Regions from separate parts of the Homo sapiens genome. Here region 1 is linked to region 2. The links come from fine-mapping of genetic effects on gene expression. A gene starts in region 2. The other region holds a variant in brackets. All regions are shown on one strand. Distances are between the middles of the regions.

Region 1 (12,345 bases), 20 kb after region 2:
AGGAAAGAGTTCTCTCCCTATGGAGTAATTACCAGTGCGAAGGTGAGGACTGGGGGCACCTCCGGGGGACAGCGTTCCCCTCCATCCTCTCACCACCATCCCCCCACAACCCCACCCCTCCACCCTCTCGCCCAGCAGCCTTCAGGGGGTTGGTGCCGGCTACCCCTTCTGGGGCTCTGCTGACCCCGTTGGAGCTTGTAGCCATCTGCAGCCTTGTCTGGGCTGGAGGGGAAGAGGGTAGAAATATAGTCCCAGTCACACAGCTGGACTTGGGGCTCACTGTCACCTTGGCATTTATTGAGTGCCTACTGTATGCCAGATTCCAGAAATTCATATCTTAGTATTTCCATTGACTTTTGTTGTCTGGCCTCTGCCAGTGACATTACCCTCCTGGGCCTCCGTTTTCCCATCTGGAAAGTGAGAGGGCTGGACTTCGTCATTCTTCATTTGTTCTTCCCTATTTCTGGAGCACCAATTGTGTGCCCAACCCTGTTAGGCCCCTGAGATGTGGCAACTGGCCCATCAGCAGCTCTATGAGCTTTAGCAGATGTTGTCTTATAGATAAGGACACTGGGCTCACTGGATGGCTTTCCGACCCTGGCTTCTCATTACAACCCCCTGGGCAATTCTTAAATACACACACCTCAGTCAGGCATAGAATGTGGATCCCCGGGGTAGGGCCTGGGCTTTTTATTTTTTTTTTTTAAAGCTCCCAGAGGCTGGGCAATATGGCTCACGCCTGTAATCCCAGCACTTTGGGAGGCTGAGGCAGGCAGATCATGAGGTCAGGAGATCGAGACCATCCTCGCTAACACGGTGAAACCCCATCTCTACTAAAAATACAAAAAATTAGCCGGGCATGATGGCACGTGCCTATAGTCCCAGGTATTCCGGAGGCTGAGGCAGGAGAATGGCATGAACCCAGGAGGCGGAGCTTGCAGTGAGCCAAGATCGTGCCACTGCACTCCAGCCTGGGCAACAGCGAGACTCTGTCTCAAAAAAAAAAAAAAAAAAAAGCGCCCAGATGGTTTTTAAGATGATGATCCAGTGTTTCTTCATTCTATACTTAAATACCTGCTGTTTTACCAGGCTCTGTGGGAAACAGGAGCAAATCAGATGTGATCCTTGCTTTCAAGTAGCTTATAGTCTAGTGAGGAAGTCAGCCCGTCACTAACTCAAATGGATTATAAGATGGGGGACAGTATGGGAGGCAAAGCTACAGGAGTTCAGTGGAACAGAAGGGAAGGCTGCCTGGAAGAAGTGGCAGTAGCAGCAGTGTTTGACTTGGCTGTGAGGAGGTAGGGAGCTGGAGTGGGAATGAGGAATTTTCCAAAGAGATCAGTGTGAGTGACAGGATGGGGGGACCCGCCTGAATGATGTGATGTTGGGTTCTGAGGAAGTGGTCTAGAAGTTCTCTTTTGGCTACTGAGTCCAGTTGTAAACATCCTTCAGGGAGCCTTGTGTTTGGAGGAAAAAAGGTTGTCTTTTAGGTTAAGATCCTTTTGAAAAATGCGAGAGAAGGCTGTGGCACATGTAAATTAGGCATCAGTAAATTTGATTACACATCATAAAAAGCTATAGGTCCTCTTTCCAAGCAAATGCATATACATTTGATGTAGAAACATGGTTGAAAGCTGGAATTTTAAAGTTAATCAGGTTTAAATGTAAACCCCAGTCCTACCATTACCTAGCTGTAGAAACTGAGGCAAGTGGCTTTGCTTTTCGGACCTTGTTTACTCACCTATAAAGTGGGAGCAACATTTCTCACCTCTCCAGGTGTCCTAAGAACTACTAAAGAGGCTGCATGTACAGCATCTGCATTCAATAAGTAGTGAAATAGTGATTGTCGTAATGATTCATCATACACCTTGCATACAGCTTCAGGAGATGGACCTTCTTGAGGACTCCCCGAACAAAGGAAATGTGTAAATTTGGATTGCTTAGAGTTAAGGCACACCTGGGGTGACCATCTTTTTAACAGGACAAACGGTATAAAATGGGGATTATAAATATATCTATTTTTTGTGTGTGTGATGGAGTCTAGCTCTGTTGCCCAGGCTAGAGTGCAGTGGCGCCATCTCGGCTCACTACAACCTCCGCCTCCCGGGTTCAAGTGATTCTTCTCCCTCAGCCTCCTGAGTAGCTGGGATTACAGGCACCTGCCACCATGCCCAGCTAATTTTTGTATTTTTAGTAGAGACGGGGTTTCACTGTGTTGGCCGGGCTGGTCTCAAACTCCTGACCTAGTAATCCGCCCGCCTCAGCCTCCCAAAGTGCTGCAATTACAAGAATGAGCCACCACGCCCAGCCTACATATATATATATATTATACAATTATTTATTTATTTTGAGATAGAGTTTCCTTCTTGTCGCCCAGGCTGGAGTGCAATGGCGCGATCTTGGCTCACTACAACTTCTGCCTCCCAGGTTCAAGCAATTCTCCTGCCTCAGCCTTCTGAGTAGCTGGGATTACAGGCGCCCGCCACCAAGCCCTACTAATGTTTGTATTTTTAGTAAAGATGAGGTTTCACCATGTTAGCCAGGATGGTCCTGAACTCTTGACCTCAGGTGATCTGCCCGCCTTGGCCTCCCAAAGTGCTGAGATTATAGGCGTGAACCACTGTGCCTGGCCTATGTTATGCGATTTTATATATTTTGGTTTATTATTATTTTTTATTAGATGCAGGTTCTTATTCTGTTGCCCAGGCTGGAGGGCCATGATGTGATCATGGCACGCCACAACCTCAACCTCCTGGGCTCAAGTGATCCTCCCACCTGAGCCTCCTAAGTAGCTGGGACCACAGGCATGTGCCACCATGCCCAGCTGATTTAAAAAAAAATTTTTTTTTGGTAGAAATTGGGAGTCTTGCTGTGTTGTCCAGGCTTGTCTTGAACTCCTGGGCTCAAGCAGTCCTCCTACCTCAGCCTCCCAAAGTGCTGGGATTATAGGCATGAGCCACTGCATCTGGCCTGTATTTTGTTTTATATAAAAATAATTATGAAAATTAAAGGAATTAATGGATATAAATACTTATACCACTATCAAGTTCATGGTAAGCTCTGCATAAGTGTTAGCTTTGCTAAATTTTATCATTATTAACTACCGACTGCCAGAAGTTCTTAACAATATATATATATTTTTTTTTTTTTGAGATGGAGTTTTGCTCTTGTTGCCCAGGCTAGAGTGCAATGGTGCAATCTTAGCTCACTGTAACCTTTGCCTCCTGGGTTCAAGTGATTCTCCTGCTTCAGCCTCCTGAGTAGCTGGGATTACAGGCGCCTCTCACCATGCCCAGCTAATTTTTTGTATTTTTAGTAGAGATGGGGTGTCACTATTTTGGCCAGGCTGGTCTCGAACTTCTGACCTCAGGTGATCCACCTGCCTCAGCCTCCCAAAGTGCTAGGATTACAGGCGTGAGCCACTGTGCCCGGCCCTTTGGCTATCTGATGAAGCCTGTGGAACCCTTCTAAGAATATTTTTTAAAAACTTTTTTGAGACAGAGTCTCGCTCTATCACCCAGGCTGGAATGCAGTGGTGCCATCACAGCTCACTGCAGCCTCCAACTCCTGGCCTCAAGTGATCTCCTGTCTCAGCCTCCCAAGTAGCTGAGACTATAGGAGCACCACTATGCCTGGATAATTATTTTTTATATTACCCAGGCTGGTCTCAAACCCCTGGGCTCAAGCAATTCTTCCGCCTCTGCTTCCCAAAAATAGGCATGAGCCACCAAACCTGGCCCTAAGAATATTTTTAAATGCATAAAATAAGATTCTTAGGTGTACAAAAAAATCATACTGAAAAAATATAATGGTCAAAATACTAAAGTGAAAGCAGTATGTGCTTCTTTTATTATTTTTATTTTTATTTTTTTGAGACGAAGTCCCACTCTGTCGCCCAGACTGGAGCGCAGTGGCATGATCTTGGCTCACTACAACCTCTGCCTCCCAGGTTCAAGAACCTGGGTTCTGCCTCAACCTCCTGGGAAGCTGAGATTACAGGCACCCGCCACCATAACCAGCTAATTTTTGTATATTTTTAGTAGAGATGGGGTTTCACCATGTTGGCCAGGCTGGTCTCGAACTCCTGACCTCAGGTGATCTGCCCACCTTGGCCTCCCAAAGTGCTGGGATTACAGGCATAAGCCATTGCGCTCGGCTGAGATTAGCAATAATTAATGTGATATGAAAATATTTTCTTTTTCTTCATGACAAATTCATGGCTAATACTGCCAGGATTTTTTTGTTGTTGCCCATATTCATAATAGAAGGAAATGCTAATATGAAAATAAAGATGTCACTTTTTCCCCAATCCATGCAATTTCCCCCTAAATTGTATCCATGACCTACCTGAGGGGGATCCATGGACTCTCAGGTTAAGACCCCTCTACTGAAGGGTAGCAGAGTACAGTTTCAAAATTACTGATTAAGAGCGTGGGCTCACCAGGAGTTCAAGCCCAGCCGGGGCAACAGGATGAGACCTCATCTTTACAAAAAATGAACAAAATTAGGCATGGTGGTGCTTGTCTGCAGTCCCAGCTACTTGGGAGACTGAGTTGAGAGGATCACTTGAGGCTGAGAGGTTGAGGGTGCAGTTGAGCTGAGATTGCACCACTGCACTCCAGCCTGAGTGACAGAGTGAGATCCTGACTCAAAAAAAAAAAAAAAAAAAAAGAAAAAAAAAAAGGAAAAAAAGAAGATTTTAAAAATAACTCTAGTCCTTATGGGCTGTATGAGCCAGGCCGGTGTCTTCACCCTAAAAAAAGGTTAAAAACCCAGGGCCAGGTGTGGTGGCTCCTGCCTGTAATCCCTGCACCTTGGGAGACCTAGGTAGGAGGATCTCTTGAGACCAGCCTGGGCAACATAGTGATTGCTGATCTCTACAAACTTAAAAAAAAAAATTAGCTGGGTGTGGTGGCATGTACCTATAGCCCTAACTACTTGAGAGGCTGAGGCAGGAGGATCCCTGGAGCCCGGGAGTTTGAGGCTGCAGTGAGCTATGATCATACCACTGCACTCCAGCCTGGATGACAGAGTGAGACCCCATCTCTTTAAAAAACAAACAAATAAACAAAAAGACAAACCCTAAATGCCATGTGGGTTGGATCCTGGAAGAGAAAAAGAATATTAGGGGAAAAAAGAGTGAAATTCCAGTGAAGTCTGGAGTTCAGTTAATAGCATTGTAGTTAATAGGAGCTAATGGTATAAAATAGTTAATAGCATTGCACCAGTGTTAATTTTGTAGTTTTGAAAAATGTACCATGTTCACATTGGGGGAAACTGGGTGAAAGATATACAGCAGGCCAGGCATGGTGGCTCACGCCTGTAATCCCAGCACTTTGGGAGGCTGAGGCAGGCAGATCACTTGAGGTCAGGAGTTTGAGACCAGCCTGGCCAACATGGTGAAACCCTCTCTCTACTGAAAATACAAAAATTAGCCAGGTGTGGTGGCACACGCCTGTAGTCCCATCTACCCAGGAGGCTAAGGCAGGAGAATTGCTTGAACCCGGGAGGCTGAGGTTGCAGTTAGCCGAGATCGTGCCACTCCACTCTAGCCTGAGTGACAGAGTGAAACTATGTCTCAAAAAAAAAAAAAAAGATATATAGCAACCCTCTGTACTGTTTTTGTAACTTTTTCTGTAAATCTAAAGTTACTCCAAAGTAAAAAGGTTATTTTAACAAAAAGGCTAAGAACCTCTTCCCCAAATTCCTAAAGAACTTGGCTTGGTACTTAGCAGAGGCGATAGAAGCTTACCAGAACAATGTGTTGGGTTGAGTCCTGGCTAACGTATGAACCACAGGCTGAGTGACCCCAGACAAGTCACTCTTTCGAGTCTCTCTTATCCCGGCTGTAAAGTGGGAGCCGCGATGCCTCCCGCATCGGGAGGTTGTACATGTGAGGTGTGAAGACATGTAAAGTATCTGGCATGCAGCAGGCCTCATAGATGGGGGTGCGTGCTGCATCCCTCAAACAGCTCAGTAAACAGGGTGCACGCTACATCCCTCCATCACTCCTCAGTAAATGGGGGTGCACGCTACATCCCTCCATCACAGCTTGCTAAACGGGGGTGCACACTACATCCCTCGAACACAGCTTAGTAAACAGGGGTGCACGCTACATCCCTCCATCACAGCTTTCTCGCGGGCCTGCCCAGTGCTGGGCTTAGCCCATGGGGAGGAGGGAGGCAGCGCAGCCCCAGGAGCCTTCCTTCCCCACCCCAGCAGCTCTTGTCTTGTCTTGCTTTTAGGTGATGACAGAGGGTGGCCACAGCAAGGGGTTTGGCTTTGTGTGTTTTTCCTCCCCAGAAGAGGCGACAAAGGCCGTGACAGAGATGAACGGGCGCATCGTGGGCACCAAGCCACTCTACGTGGCACTGGCCCAGCGCAAAGAGGAGCGGAAGGCCATCTTGACCAACCAGTACATGCAGCGCCTCTCCACCATGCGGACCCTGAGCAACCCCCTCCTGGGCTCCTTTCAGCAGCCCTCCAGCTACTTCCTGCCTGCCATGCCCCAGGTGACGGCCTGCCCGCAACTCCCACCGCAGCCTTCCCCCCTGCCCCAGCAAGGCAGAGCATGAAGACTAGAGTTCTAGGGAAATGGAGGTTTCTAACTTGCTTCTGCCGAGGACTCATTAGGAAGTCTTTGTTTCCCTCTCTATAAAAGGGAGAGATAGTGTTAGTCAAATGGCATTTCCCAGTGAGAGAAGCTCGTGAATGTTGTGCTGAAAAAGACTCTTAATGATCCAGCAAGTTTGGGAAATGCTGCGTTAAGCAAGACCTACATTTTTCCTTCCTCCCTTCCTTCCCTTCCCTCCCTTCCCTCCCTTCCCTCCCTTCCCTTCCCTTCCCTTCCCTCCCTCCCTCCCTCCCTCCCTCCCTTCCTTCCTTCCTTCCTTCGTGGGGTCTCCATGTCACCCAGGCTGGTGAGCAATGGCGTGATCATGGCTCCTTCCTTCTTCCCTCCCTTCCTCCCTTCCTCCCTTCCTTCACGGGGTCTCCATGTCACCCAGGCTGGAGAGCAATGGCATGATCATGGCTCACTGCAGCCTTGAATTCCTGGGCTTGAGTGATCCTCCCACTGTAGCCTCCTGAGTAGGTGGGACTACAGGTGTGTGCCACCATGCCCAGCTAATTTTTTTGTTTATTTTAAAGAAGGGGTCTCGCCATGTTGCCCAGGCTGGTCTCAAACTCCTGGGCTCAAGCAATTCTCCTGCCTTGGCCTCCCAAAGTGCTGGCATTACAGGAGTAAGCCACCGTCCCCCGCCCTACATTTTTTTAAAAATTAAATTTTTATTTTTTTGGAGACAGAGTCTTGCTCTGTTGCCCAGAATGGAGTGCAGTGACACCATCTTGGCTCGCTGCAAACTCTTCCTCCTGGGTTCAAGTGATTCTTGTGCCTCAGCCTCCCGGGTAGCTGGGATTACAGGTGCGTGCCACCACACTCAGCTAATTTTTTGTATTTTTAGTAGAGACGGGGTTTCACCATGTTGGCCAGGCTGGTCTTGAACTCCTGACCTCAAGTGATGTGCCCTCCTTGACCTCCTAAAGTGCTGGGATTACAGGCATGAGCCACCATGATCGGCCCTAAATTTCTTTACTATCTACACTATTCTACCCTAAGATGCCAATGTCTACTGAGACTCTCCAAAACAGGCACAGATTATCCAGCATTTCCCCAGCTTAGATGGTCATTTTTTTGTGGGATGCCTGTTAACATCTCCCCTGGATGTTAATGTTCTGAGGAGCATGGTTTGGGAAAGGACCTCGTGGGACTTACAGGAAGTAGAAAGATGTCACCCATTAAAGGCCACCACGGTAAGAACATTCCTCTCCTTTTAGCAGTTGCTTAAGCTGCACAAGTTGGAGTAAGATGTCACCCTTTTTATCCAGGTCATTGGGTTAGCTGACAGGGAGCCAAGATTGAAATCTAAGATCTTTGCCCTGCAGGATTCAGGGCTAATGGACATCCTGAGATGGGAGGAAGGAGCTTTCATTACAGCCTTGTGGGTCTTGACTCACCAGTCCCTGCAGGAGCCAGTGGAGTTCCTGCCATGGTGTCCCTGAGGAGGTGTAGCTTCTCACCTACCCTGCCGCCAAGCCCCTCAGTCTGGGTCTTCTTTTCCCATGCAGCCTCCAGCCCAGGCTGCATACTATGGCTGTGGCCCAGTGACACCCACCCAGCCTGCCCCCAGGTGGACATCCCAGCCACCTAGACCTTCCTGTGAGTGACCCAGCCCCTTCCACTCTCAGACTGGCCTATTGGTGTGGGCCCCGTGAGGCAGTCATAACACAGGGATGAAACCTGGCTCTGCCACTTCCCAAGGTGGGTGACTTCACTTCTCTGAGCCTCAGTTTCCTCTTCTGAGCATGGGCCTGAATGAGACGTGTGTAAAGTACCAAGCACAGTGGTGAGCCAATGGAAGACACGCAGCTAGCCACCAGCAGTCATCACCAAAGATGCCTCTGATTTGTGACTCTGAAAATTCTTGCAAAGCTGAGAAGGTGAAATTCCTCTGGCTATATTGTTGACCAAAGGCCCTCCTCTGTAAGAGTGAATTGCACGCTCACTTGAAACTATCTTGAGGGACTAAGGTGTACAATCCTGGTGCTTATGCAGTTTGGGGCTCTAGGTAGACACGAGCTGGCTTTGAAATTGTAGATTCCTACACTCCCCCTTTCTGGAGTTCTGGGTCTAAGTGAATTGACTCCTATTTCTGTTGTGAATGTTGTAGTTTCCCTTCCCATTCTCTTGGTGGCCCTGGAAGCTTCTAGGCACAGTGTGCCACCCTGATTATTCCCACCACTCCATCCAACTTTTCTCTCTCTGTGGTGTCTGCACCACAAGCTGCCTACCCTCCAGGTGCCTCAATGGTCCGGCCACCAGTTGTGCCTCGGCGCCCCCCGGCCCACATCAGCAGTGT[C/T]AGGCAGGCCTCCACCCAGGTGCCACGCACGGTGCCTCATACCCAGAGAGTAGGTGAGTGTGGGTAGGGCCAAGGGGAATGGGGGTGGGGCAAAGTTGGCACTAGGAGTCAGGACCAGCCTCCATGGTGACCTTGCCATATGCCCTCTCGGTGAGCAAAGCTGACTTTGGAGACTGTAGCGTGGTAGTTAGCTTGGCCTCCAGTTCCTGGGACCAACTGACTATGAGGCCCTTGCTGACTACTATATCTGTCACCTAATCTTTAAAATGGGGACAAAAATAGTACCCCCATTTTATTGTAGAGAATTTAAATGTTTTTTTTTTTCTTTTTGAGGCAGAATTTCATTCTTGTTGCCCAGGCTGGAGTGCAATGGCATGATCTCTGCTCACTGCAACCTCCGCCTCCCAGGTTCAAGCGATTGTCCTGCCTCAGCTTCCCAAGTAGCTGGGATTGTAGGCATGCGCCACCATGCCTGGGTAATTTTGTGTTTTTAGTAGAGACGGGGTTTCTCCATGTTGGTCAGGTTGGTCTTGAACTCCTGATCTCAGGTGATCCGCCCACCTCAGCCTCCCAAAGTGCTGAGATTACAGGCATGAGCCACTGTGCCCAGCCTTAATTTTTTTTTTTTTTTTTTTTGAGATCGAGTCTTGCTCTGTCGCCCAGGCTGGAGAGTAATGGTGTGATCTCGGCTCACTGCAACCTCTGCCTCCGGGGTTCTAAGCGATTCTCCTGCCTCAGCCTCCTGAGTAGCTGGGATTACAGGCATGCGCCACCATACTTGGCTAATTTTTGTATTTTTAGTAGGGACAGGGTTTCACCATGTTGGCCAGGCTGGTCTCGAACTCCTGACCTTAGGTGATCCACCAGCCTCGGCCTCCCAAAGTGCTGGGATTACAGGCATGAGCCACCATGCCCGGCTTGTTGTTGAGGATCAATGAGATCATGCATGAAAGGGCTTAGCACTGGGCCTAAAGCCTGGTAAGTATTGCAGTGACTATAAACAAGGGTGTAGGTTTTGGCTGTACAGCAAGCACATCTGTTCTTTCATTCTGCAAATGTTCTCACATCCACAGTGTGCTGGGGCCCCAAGCTCAGCACTGGAGGTTCTGCGTGAACGAGGTATACTCAGTCTCTGGCCTTAGGTTGCTGCCAGGCCCTGACACCCCTGCTTATTCCTTTTTATTGTGGTAAAATACACATAACAAAATTTACCACTTAACTATTTTTCAGTGTACAGATCAATGGCATTAAGTATATTCACACTGTTGTGCACTGTCACCACCATCCACTCTCCAGAACTCTGTTCAGCTTGTAGAGCCGAAATTCTGTACCCATCAAACCATAACTTCTCGTTCCTCCTCCCGCTAGCCCTTGGCAACTGCCATTCTACTTTGTCTCTGTGAATTTGACTGTTCTTGCTTGGTACCTCATGTAAGTAGAATCATAGAGTATTTGTCTTTTTGTGGCTAGTTTTTTTACTTTACATGTCTCAGGATGTATCTATGTTGTGGCGTGTGTCAGAATCTCCTTATTAAGGCTAAATAATATTCCATTGTATGTATAGACCTCATTTTTACTTATTCATTCATCTATCAATGGACACTTTTCTACCCTTTGGGTATTGTGAATAATGCTGCTGTGAAAATGGTTGTGCAGGCTGGGCGTGATGGCTTACGCCTGTAATCCCAGCACTTTGGGAGGCTGAGGCAGGTGGATCATGAGGTCAGGAGTTCGAAACCAGCCTGACCAACATGGTGAAACCCTGTCTCTACTAAAAATACAAAAATTAGCCGGACGTGGTGGCATGTGCTTGTAATCCCAGCTACTTGGTAGGCTGAGACAAGAGAATTGATTGAACCCAGGAGGGGGAGGTTGCAGTGAGCCGAGATAACACCACTGCACTATAGCCTGGGTGACAGAGCAAGACTCTGTCTCAGGAAAAAAAAAAAAAAGAAAGAAAATGTTTGTACAAATAGCTCTTTGAAACCCTGCTTTCAATTCTTTTGGGTATATACCCAGAGGTAAAATTGATGGATGATATGGTAATTCTGTTTAACTGTTTGAGAAAGCCCTATACTGTTTTTCTGTAGTGGCTACATCATTTTACATTCCTACCAACAGTGCACAGTCTTCTAATTTCTTTACATTCTTGTCAACGCTTGTTATTTTCTGTTTTGGTGTTGTTTTGTTTTGTTTTGTTTTTGGATAGCAGCTATTTGAACTCTGCTTTTTTTGTTTTGTTTTGTTTTGTTTTGCAGCCAACATTGGTACTCAGACCACAGGACCCAGTGGGGTAGGATGCTGTACACCAGGCCGGCCGCTCCTGCCGTGCAAATGTTCCTCAGCAGCACATAGCACCTATCGGGTAAGGCCAGCCCAGCTGCCTGCTCTTAGCCTGGGCTCCTGGCCGCCTGGCTCAGAACCTTAGCTAAGGTGTTGGGCCTTGGCTTTTTTTCTTTTCTTGGCTTGTAAAGTTTCGTTTATTAATGTGTACAATCAATAAGAGATCACCCTTACTGCGAGAAGGGGAAAGAGGGCCAGCATTACGTTTTATTTACAATTTGTTTTGCTTCGGTTATTACCAAAATTAATTTGGATATCCTTAGTATTTGTGATGAACACCAAGGAAAGGTATTCTAAGAATATGCTGATTATTGAAGGGATGTACTTAATCTTCAAAACAGAAAATACTTACTGTAATCAAAGACTGTGTATTTATCTCCCTCCCCTAAAAAAGGCCTAAAATTCAGCATTATCATATCCTGTGTAGAATTTCAATGTGTCTCTTTTGAACTATTTCCTGCAAAATGAATGAGAACAGTCTTTAAACAGCAAAAATGTCTATTTTTTTTTTTGGACAGGGTCTTTTTTTTGACAGCACCCAGGTTAGAGTGCAGTGGTGTGATCATAGCTCACTGCAGCCTTGAACTCCTAGGCTCAAGTGATCCTCCCACCTCAGCCTCCAAGTACAGGCATGTGACACCATGCCTGGTTAATTTTGTGTATTTTTTTGTAGTGACAGGGGTCTCATTATGTTGCCAAGGCTGATCTCAAACTCCTGGCCTCAAGCGATCCTCCCACTTTGGCCTTCCAAAGTTCTAGGATTATAGGTGTGAGCCACCACACCTGGCCAAAATGTTTTAAAATTACCAAGATGTGAAAGGGTGAGAGGTGTGCCGGGGACATGTCCATAAATCTACTTGATAAAAAGTGCTTTATTTGGCACAAAGTTATTGGTAACACAGGGCTTTCCTTTATCAACGTTCATCAGGGACCTTTATAAGTTCGTAGCACTACAGGAAACGTCTAAGCTAGAGGCATGACTTTGTCTTCTAATCCACTTTGCCCTTGTTGGGGACTCTCCACCCCACCTGATCATCCAGACCTTGCCCTCTGTTCCCCTCCTCCAGTGCCTCCCTGGCCTTCT
Region 2 (8,516 bases):
ATAAACAGCTGGTATTTGTATCTAAAACTCAGATTGGTCACATAAATGCCACGGCATTCCGAAGTTTTGATTTTGATTAACATTGACAGGATTACTGTGTGTTTAATTTTTTAAAAACTGAACACTGTGATTATGGGGTTTTGTAATTTAGCAGAACTCTTACTGGTAGAAAAAATAGACCTGAATTATGTGTAACTTTTTGGAAGGTTTAATCTGATATCAAAATAATCATTGAAATACAATTCCATTGTAAAGTTGTACAGAAAGTTATAGAGATTATATTGTGATGCTGGAACTTGGAGTGAGACACACATCATTTGGCATTTGAGTTGAATGGTAATTCACAGTAATGCTGCCGTTGTTCGGGACTTAAAGACACTTGACCTGTTTGGGCTGTTGCCACTTAAAAGTTCATGACCACAAATGTCCACAGTGTCTTCCTCTGAGGAAACTCGAATCCTGAAATGGAAATTCTTTGTGGCAGATAACTGGCTTATGACACCTTGAAAAGTTCAAGTGCTCATATAACACACCACACTGAACCCCCTTTCCTACAGCAATATGTTCACTATGTTACCAATTTGCAACTTGTGCTTCAATAGTGGAATCTACTTTCATTGTTAACACTGAGCTAAAGAAAAAAAGCCGTGTGTTTTATGAATGACCTTATCTGTTTCCTGGATAATACCTTTAAGAATAATGTCCTGAGTCAGGCGTGGTGGTGCGTGCATCTAGTCCCAACTATTTGGGAGGCTGAGGCAGGAGGATCGCTTGAGCCCAGGAGTTTAAAGCTGCAGTGCCCTGTGGTTGCACCTGTGAATAACTGCACTCCAGCCTGGGCAACATAGCGAGACCTCATCTCCAAAAAAGAAAACAAAAAACAAAAAAAGGAATGATGTTCTGTAGAGATGGCCTTTCACTTGAGGAGTACTCAGTTTTCAGGTTCTTCCTAGCTCGGGGCTTTTAAATTTTGAAATCTAAACATTCTTTCCCACCATCCTTTTTGACTGTTGACCTTGGTTTTCTCTTCTAAGTTTCTGTCCCTCTGCTTCCTTACTTTTTTTCCTTTTTGAATTCTATCTTTATCTGTCTTTTGTTCACTTTTTAATGCTATATATGGGCAGGGGTGAGAGACATTACTGAGCACCTTGGTGAGCAAGCCTGGCTTTAAAGATTGGAGAAGAGCTTCTGGCACCAGAACCCTGTCTTCCTCCAGTTCTCAACACGGTGTTGCTCTTCAGTCATACCGGAATCTGAATCAAAAAAGTATTTTTAAATATCCATGATTTCTCCCTGTATTGAGGCTAGCCCTGATCATGCTTTTTGTGCCTGTCACCAGGTCTCCCAAGTGCACTCATCCAGGTCAGTGCTCAGATGTGTTTAAGGAGACCCTATATTCAGGGAAGTTGCGTGAACACTGCAGTGGGGAGAATTGAGAATAGTCAGGCCTATCAGTCTCACAGAATCACCCCTCTACCTTTGATATTCCACTTAGCTGTAGAGTCCATCTGTTTGTCCATCTGCTGAAATGAGAAAAGAAAAATTTATGCACTGATTTAAAACAAACCAAAAAAAAAGAAAAAAACAAAAAAAAAAATCCCTCCTTTCTAGCTGAACAAAAATGTGCAGTTAATACTTGGCGCTTGAAAATGCAGTAGTGAATGTGGAACCAAGCCTGTCTGTATATCTGGTAGCTCTTTTCTTGCTTTGTTTTTTCTTACCAGTATTCTGCCTAACGTTTGCTTCTGTGATGGTTATATTGCCTAGCAAGCACACCCGTGGTTGTGAAAATAGTATAGCAAAAAAGAAAAATCCCCGGTTATTGATGTACTAGATTTGTGTATGTCTTTTAAACAGTTCTAGTTTCACCTTACACAGAATAATCAGGAAAAGTGTAAAAATTCAAAAGTGAAATAAAAATTTTATCAGTTAGTTGCCTGTGAATTGATGTGTCACCACCATCTCTGTTGTTACCAGACCTAGCTAACTATTCTGATCACACTTATTTTTAACTCTGTTTTCTTTAAAAATAGGCAAACAGTTTTATTTCATTATTTAGGACCAGAAGTCAAGGTGTTATCCAGGGGAAGAAATTACCATTAATTAAACAGCCTCTTTACACCCGTTACTTGATACCTCTCTACCTTCCACAACAAACCATGCAGGTATTAGGTCCTCTTTAGTGACTTCTAAGATTTGGTATGGACAGTTATTTTGCATTGTATTCGAGCCCACCATCCCTTCCCCATTTTTTAACTCTGAGATACAACCAAGCCAGTGAAATAGGTAACCTATGGTTGCATAAGTCTTGGTCATCACCAAGCTGGCGTCTCACCTGTCCTCACACTGTATGGTGGCCTGCAGAGCTGGTTCCTCACAGGATTTGCCCCTTCTGAAAACATCCACATTACCACAAGGAGAGAAAAATATCAGGATAGAGGGGTCTTTTTTAGCCCAAGATTAGAATTAGTGCTTCCTTGCTACTCTGAGGCTGGACAGCCAGATGGGCACCTTCTGTCCCTAGTTTAGGAGCTGTTCCACCTGTTGAAGCCACACTCAACCAAAAGTCAGTGGGGGCCTACCTGCTCTGTTGGATCAGTGAGACCAGGAAAGTCCTATCAGAGGAAAAGTGAAGTATTGGTGCTCAGTGGAGTAGTTGTTTTGTTTTTGTGTTGTTTTTAATGTCCCTATACCACAGATTGACGCTGCAAGCTCAGATTCACAGTCTTGCTCTGTTTAGGTCTTGCTCTGCTATTAGTTCCCAATTGTCCGCATTTAGGCTGAGCCACAAGTAACTCAGTGAACCTCCCTGGTGTAATGGATGTGTAATGGCTTAGCAGAGGGACAGGGAATATCCCAGGAAAAGGGGTCTTGGTAATATGAGCCAGTACCAAGAAAGGCCTTAGTGGTCTCCAGTTCTCATGTCTCAAAGCCATTTCCATCCTTGGTGCGAAACGGTGGGACTGGATCAGGCTCTCTGGAGGAAGACATCTTCAATGGAGCAGGGTAAAATTCTCTACACAAGCTTTGAAACAGTGGCCTGTTCGGAATTCCGTTTGTGTGTGAAACGCAAAAAGCGCGGTTTGGGTCTCCTTTCATTCTTGTCAGGAGGGAATCATTCCCATTTTACAGAGAAGGGAAACGGGTTCAGAAAGATGATCATCTGTTCCGGGGTTAGAACTCAGTCCCCTGCGTCCTTTCCGTCCCAGTCCTCGGCTCTTTCAAAAGAGCTGGGGGTTTTGAGAGCTCCACTCAAGTCCCAGCAGCCCTGCTCAAGGCCAGGTTGAAGGCTTTTTCCGCCTCCCAGGGCGGGGTCAGAGGTGTCCCCACCTGTAGCTTTTAGATCCCCAAGTGCTCGCAGGTGGGGGGTGGGCCCAGGAGGGATCCCGGGGGAGGGGCGTCCGAGCGCGCCCACGATTGGTGCGCAGGGACGCGGGGGCGGTAAAGGGAAGGGGCGGGCCCGCGCCCAGGAAGGAGGGCTTCCGCCCGGGTGAGCGCGGGGCTGCTGGGTGACCCGGCTCCTGCTTGCCCCGCAGCCCCGGCCCCCTGCCCACCATGAACGCCAGCGGTTCTGGCTACCCGCTTGCCTCGCTTTACGTGGGCGATCTGCACCCCGACGTGACCGAGGCCATGCTCTATGAGAAGTTCTCTCCCGCCGGCCCCATCCTGTCCATCCGCGTGTGCCGCGATGTAGCCACCCGGCGCTCGCTGGGCTACGCCTACATCAACTTCCAGCAGCCCGCGGACGGTGAGCCCCGGGGATGGGGCGGGAGGGGAAGGACCGACGGACAAGCAGGCGGACAGACAGAAGCCGGAACTGGGCCGCTTGCGCTTTCATCTTACACTTTGCAGCCGGGGAAACTGAGGCTCAAAGATAACAGGGCGTTGGCAGAGGCCTGGCCCCTGAGACGGGAATTGGTAATTAGTGTGGTTTACTGCTATTCCTCTACAGAGGAGAGAGATTAGGGTCGAGTGAAAACAGATACAGGCTTTGTGGGGGTGGGGGTGGGGGTCAGGCGGACCAGGGATAGAAGCCCAGCAGCCGTGTGACTCTGGGCAAGTTACTCGACCATTCTGAGCTTCAGATGCGTGTCTGGAAAATGGGGGTCCTAGCTGCCTTATAGAGTGCTTGTGAGGATGAGAGATTCAAAGCACCTGGTGAGGAAGATGCCCAAGGCAACACAGCTGGTGAGCAGGGGAGGCAGGAGAACCCAGCCTTGGGCTCAGGCCTTTCCCAGCGCGACGTGAGATCCACACTGGGCGCCTCTACCTGCACGGGCTCTGAAAAACCGCTGCCTCCAGGCCGCAAGGCCGCTTTCTCAGAGCTGATAGCATTGATTAGAGCTTGTCCGATGAGTTTGCCTGCACTTCTGTTGAGAGTGGAGAGGATGAGTGAGCTTGGGCAAGCCTTCACGCTCTGCACCTTTTCATCTGCAAAATGGGGCTAAGGCGTATTCTCCAATAACATAAAGAATGGAGAACTGCTGTCTATGCATAAAGAATGGTAACTGCTTGTTACCTCGTAAACGCTCTTAAGTGGTAACCTAAAATAAATAAATAAATAAATAAATAAATAAATAAATAAATAAATAAGGCCAGGCGCAGTGGCTCACGCCTGTAATCCCAGCATCTTAGGAGGCCGAGGTGGGCAGATCACTTGAGGTCAGGAGTTCGAGACCAGCCTGGCCAACATAGCGAAACCCTTTCTCTACTAAAAATACAAAAAATAGCTGGGCATGATGGCGGACGCCTGTAATCCCAACTGCTGGGGAGGCTGAGGCACGAGAATCGCTTGAATCCGGGAGGCAGAGGTTGCAGTGAGCCGAGACTGCGCCATTGCACTCCAGCCCGGGCAACAGAGCGAGACTCCATCTCAACACAAAACAAAACAACAAACAAAAAAGAAACAACAACGAAAATAGTGGCTTTAACATTCTGATGTAAGACTCCAGAAACTCACCCAAAAAATGGCCGGCGTCCACTAGAGGGATCCCTTGCGCCAGGTCGCCTGGGTGAACCTGGTGGTTGCCTGAGTGGGTGGTTTGCTAGGGAAGGGGTTGTTCCGCCGGGCCTGTTCCCCGCCCCTTACTGGGCTGGATTCCTGGGCACTTTTCTGTTTGTTCTGCTTTGCTCCACCTCCTGCCTCTTCCCATCTTCCTCCAAGCCCTGTGAATGAAGTGGGACTCGGCCTGGAAACCGTGCTGCAGAGAGAAGGGTTTTGCCCCAGGTATTTATGATAAGACTAGGTGGAGAATCCGGGCTTCCTGAAACTTGCTCCACTGTGTTCCCCACAGCCCCCTTCCATGTCTCTGCACTAGCAGACTCCCTGAAACAGGTCACGTGTATCACCCAGGAGAGACACAGGCTGCAGCAGTGGCCGGAGGCTGGGCATCGGCTGCTGTTTTGAGACATTATTTTGTGTCAGGCACAAAGTTACAAACAAGGCACTTTTACATACCTTCTTTATTTTTCAGTCCCTCCAACAACCTGGTAGTTGGTAGTATCTCCCTTTGTTAGGTGTGGAAAAGTAGGTAATATTACCATCATTCCCCCTTTACAGGTGAGGAACAGGCTCAGAGAGGTAATGTCCACTTTCCCCAGAGCCGGACTGCTTGAGATCTAACCTCAGCTCTGCCCTGCAGCACCTCTGAGTTTTAATTTCCTCAAAGTGCTGCCACCCCTTGTCATATGGACATTGTTATCCACTCAGTGTACTTTAGAATCCAGAATAGACCTGACGCTGCCACAGACCTTTCATGTTTCTTATTCTCAGTTTTCCCATCTGTAAAATGAGGGGCAGGAATCCATGCTCATGTGGCTGCAGGGAGTTGGTTGAATGAGATCATAACTGGAAGGTTGGGGGAGCACCATACACACTAATTCTCAGCTTATCCTTCCTGAGCCTTTGGGCTCTTATCTCAGTTATTTGGGCTCTTATCTTGGCTTATTGTCTGGGACCCAGACAATGACTTTCTCTTTATTGGCTCCCAGTTAAGCACCTCGAGGGGTGGGTGATCAAGGTAAGAAAATTCCCTAAACTTGCTAATTTCTCTCCTCTTCCTTCTGTCCAGCGGAGCGGGCACTGGACACAATGAACTTTGAGATGCTCAAAGGCCAGCCTATTCGCATCATGTGGTCCCAGCGAGACCCAGGACTTCGCAAGTCAGGTGTGGGCAACATCTTCATCAAGAACCTGGAGGACTCCATTGACAACAAGGCTTTATATGATACCTTCTCCACCTTTGGGAACATCCTCTCTTGCAAGGTAGAGGATGAAGGGTGTACGTCTTTGGGTAGATCGGTGTCAACTACCTGCCTGGTAGAGGGGTGACAAGCAACACCTCACTTTACAGTTTACAAGGTCCTTTCAGTCAAGTTTCAGGTACAGCAAGCACCTGAATGACAGCCGTTCTTTCAGTTTCATCTTCCGTGAATGACCAGACATTACCTGTGTATCAGTCAGCTCTCGCTGTGTAACCACCTTCAAATTTAGTGGCCGTCAACAACAATCATTTATTTAGCTAATAATTCCACAGTTGGCAATGGGCAAAGTTCAGCTGGGCAGTTCTTCTGGTCTTGGCTGGGTTCCCTCCTATGCCCACTGAAAGCTGAGTGGGAGCTCTCGCTGGGTATATGAGGGAGCGACTGGCTGTCAGCTGGAACATCTTGGCTTTCCTCCCTATGGCCTTTTGTCCTCCAGTAGGCTAGTCCAGGCTATTCTCATGGTATTCTCATGGCAATGGCAGGGGCTCAGAAGACAAGAGTGGAAGCACACCAGGCCTCTTGAGAACTAAATGCAGAACTGGAACCATCACTTCCACTACGTTTTTTTTTTTTAATTGAGATGCAGTCTTACTCTGTTGCCTAGGCTGGAGTACAGTGGCATGATCTCAGCTTACTGCAACTTCCTGGGTTCAAGCCTCCTGAGTTCAAACGATTCTCCTGCCTCAGCCTCCCGAGTAGCTGGAATTACAGGTGCGAGCCACCATGCCTGGATAATTTTTGTATGTTTAGTGGAGACAGGGTGGGTTTCACTGTGTTGGCCAGGCTGGTCTCGAACTCCTGACCTCCCAAAATGCTGGGATTACAGCCATGAGCCACCGCACCTGGCCTCTTTCACTACATTCTATTGACCAAAGCAAGTCACAAGACCAGCCCACATTCAGAGTGAGAGGGGAGTAGAAATTATAGGATGAAGGGTGTGGCTACAGGAAGGCCATTAATTGGGGCCATCAAGGCAATTAAGTTATTGAATCTTGTTTTTAAGATTGTCTTACATTAGATGTAAGTTCCATCAGTGATCTTGTTCTTAGTCATTATTGTATCCCAATACTTAGAATAAGATGTGAAACATATTAGGTGCTCAATAAATATATGTTGAGCCAGTGGAGGTATGTCATTTGAGAAGGATTCTGATTATTTCTCTGACTTTTTATATGAGGATGTTGAGGATCAGCGGCCATATAGCAGGTCAGTATGTCTGGAACAGAGGGCTTAAACCTGGGTGTTCTGTCTCTAGATTTTATAAGGATAGTTGATCAGTTACCCCGTAGCCTTTGGAGTGTCTGCTATTCTAGGGAGGATGGGGACAGTTTTTGTAGCCTATGTGTCAGAACTTTTTTTTTTTTTTTTTTTTGAGACGGAGTCTCACTCTGTTGCCCAGGCTGGAGTGCAGTGGCGCGATCTCAGCTCACTGCAACCTCCTCCTCCCAGGTTCACGCCATTCTCCTGCCTCAGCCTCCTGAGTAGCTGGGACTACAGGTGCCCGCCACCACGCCCAGCTAATTTTTTTTGTATTTTTAGTAGAGACGGGGTTTCACCGTGTTAGCCAGGATGGTCTCGATCTCCTGACCTTGTGATCCGCCCGCCTCAGTCTCCCAAAGTGCTGGGATTACAGGCGTGAGCCACTGCACCTGGCATGTCAGAACTTTTATCAAGTGCTACTGTGTGCCAAGCATAATCCTTAAGTTCTCAACGAGGGCTCTCAAATTCCCAGTCAATAAGAGGCTATCCCTGTGGCTCAGAGGAGCAGGTAGACTTGAGGAGATGTAGTAATGCACTAAGGGTTATCTGTGACAGAGAGACGGGGCTGTTTCCTGTCTTTGAGGATCAAAGGAAGAAAGACTCTTAACTGTGTATTAAGTTCTTCACAATAATAATGGCAGATTTATCATGTACTTTCTGTGTGTTAGGTTTTCTGCATACATGTATACTCCTTAAAAGGGTACCTGGCATACTGTTAAGCTTCTAAGTGATAACTGTAACAATCAAAGAATTACTTCTGTTGGCTGACCTTGGACAAGTCATTTATTCTCATTTTCCCTCTGGGGCTCAGAGGTTAAGAAATGACTGAAAGGATTCTCTTATGACTGGCATAGATAACAAGGGAAGTATGTAATGCCCTTAGCAGGTTCTTGACCCACAGTGGGGACCCAGTCAACGTGGTTAAATCCAAGCTGAGGCTTGAGTTGAAAGTGGAAGGCCCCTGTTTCAGGATGAGAGGTGGAGGGGTATGT

The links. PIP is the estimated chance that this variant, and not a neighbour inherited with it, causes the effect.
Region 1: its variant is fine-mapped to the expression of PABPC1L in whole blood (TOPMed, PIP above 0.99).

The regions. Positions count from the first base shown.
Region 1 is chr20:44,924,215-44,936,559 of GRCh38, forward strand. PABPC1L (poly(A) binding protein cytoplasmic 1 like) reads left to right here. Exons shown (of 15, transcript NM_001372179.1): 7 at 1-42; 8 at 6,246-6,512; 9 at 8,128-8,218; 10 at 8,843-8,971; 11 at 11,177-11,283. Among named protein-coding and RNA genes, the nearest start is that of PABPC1L, 20 kb to the left of the region's middle. The variant C/T (reference allele first, on the strand shown) is at 8,919.
Region 2 is chr20:44,906,589-44,915,104 of GRCh38, forward strand. PABPC1L (poly(A) binding protein cytoplasmic 1 like) reads left to right here and starts at 3,472. Exons shown (of 15, transcript NM_001372179.1): 1 at 3,472-3,748; 2 at 6,072-6,265. The coding sequence starts at 3,556. It overlaps YWHAB (tyrosine 3-monooxygenase/tryptophan 5-monooxygenase activation protein beta), which reads left to right. Exons shown (of 6, transcript NM_139323.4): 6 at 1-1,944. RefSeq lists a silencer at 3,326-3,655.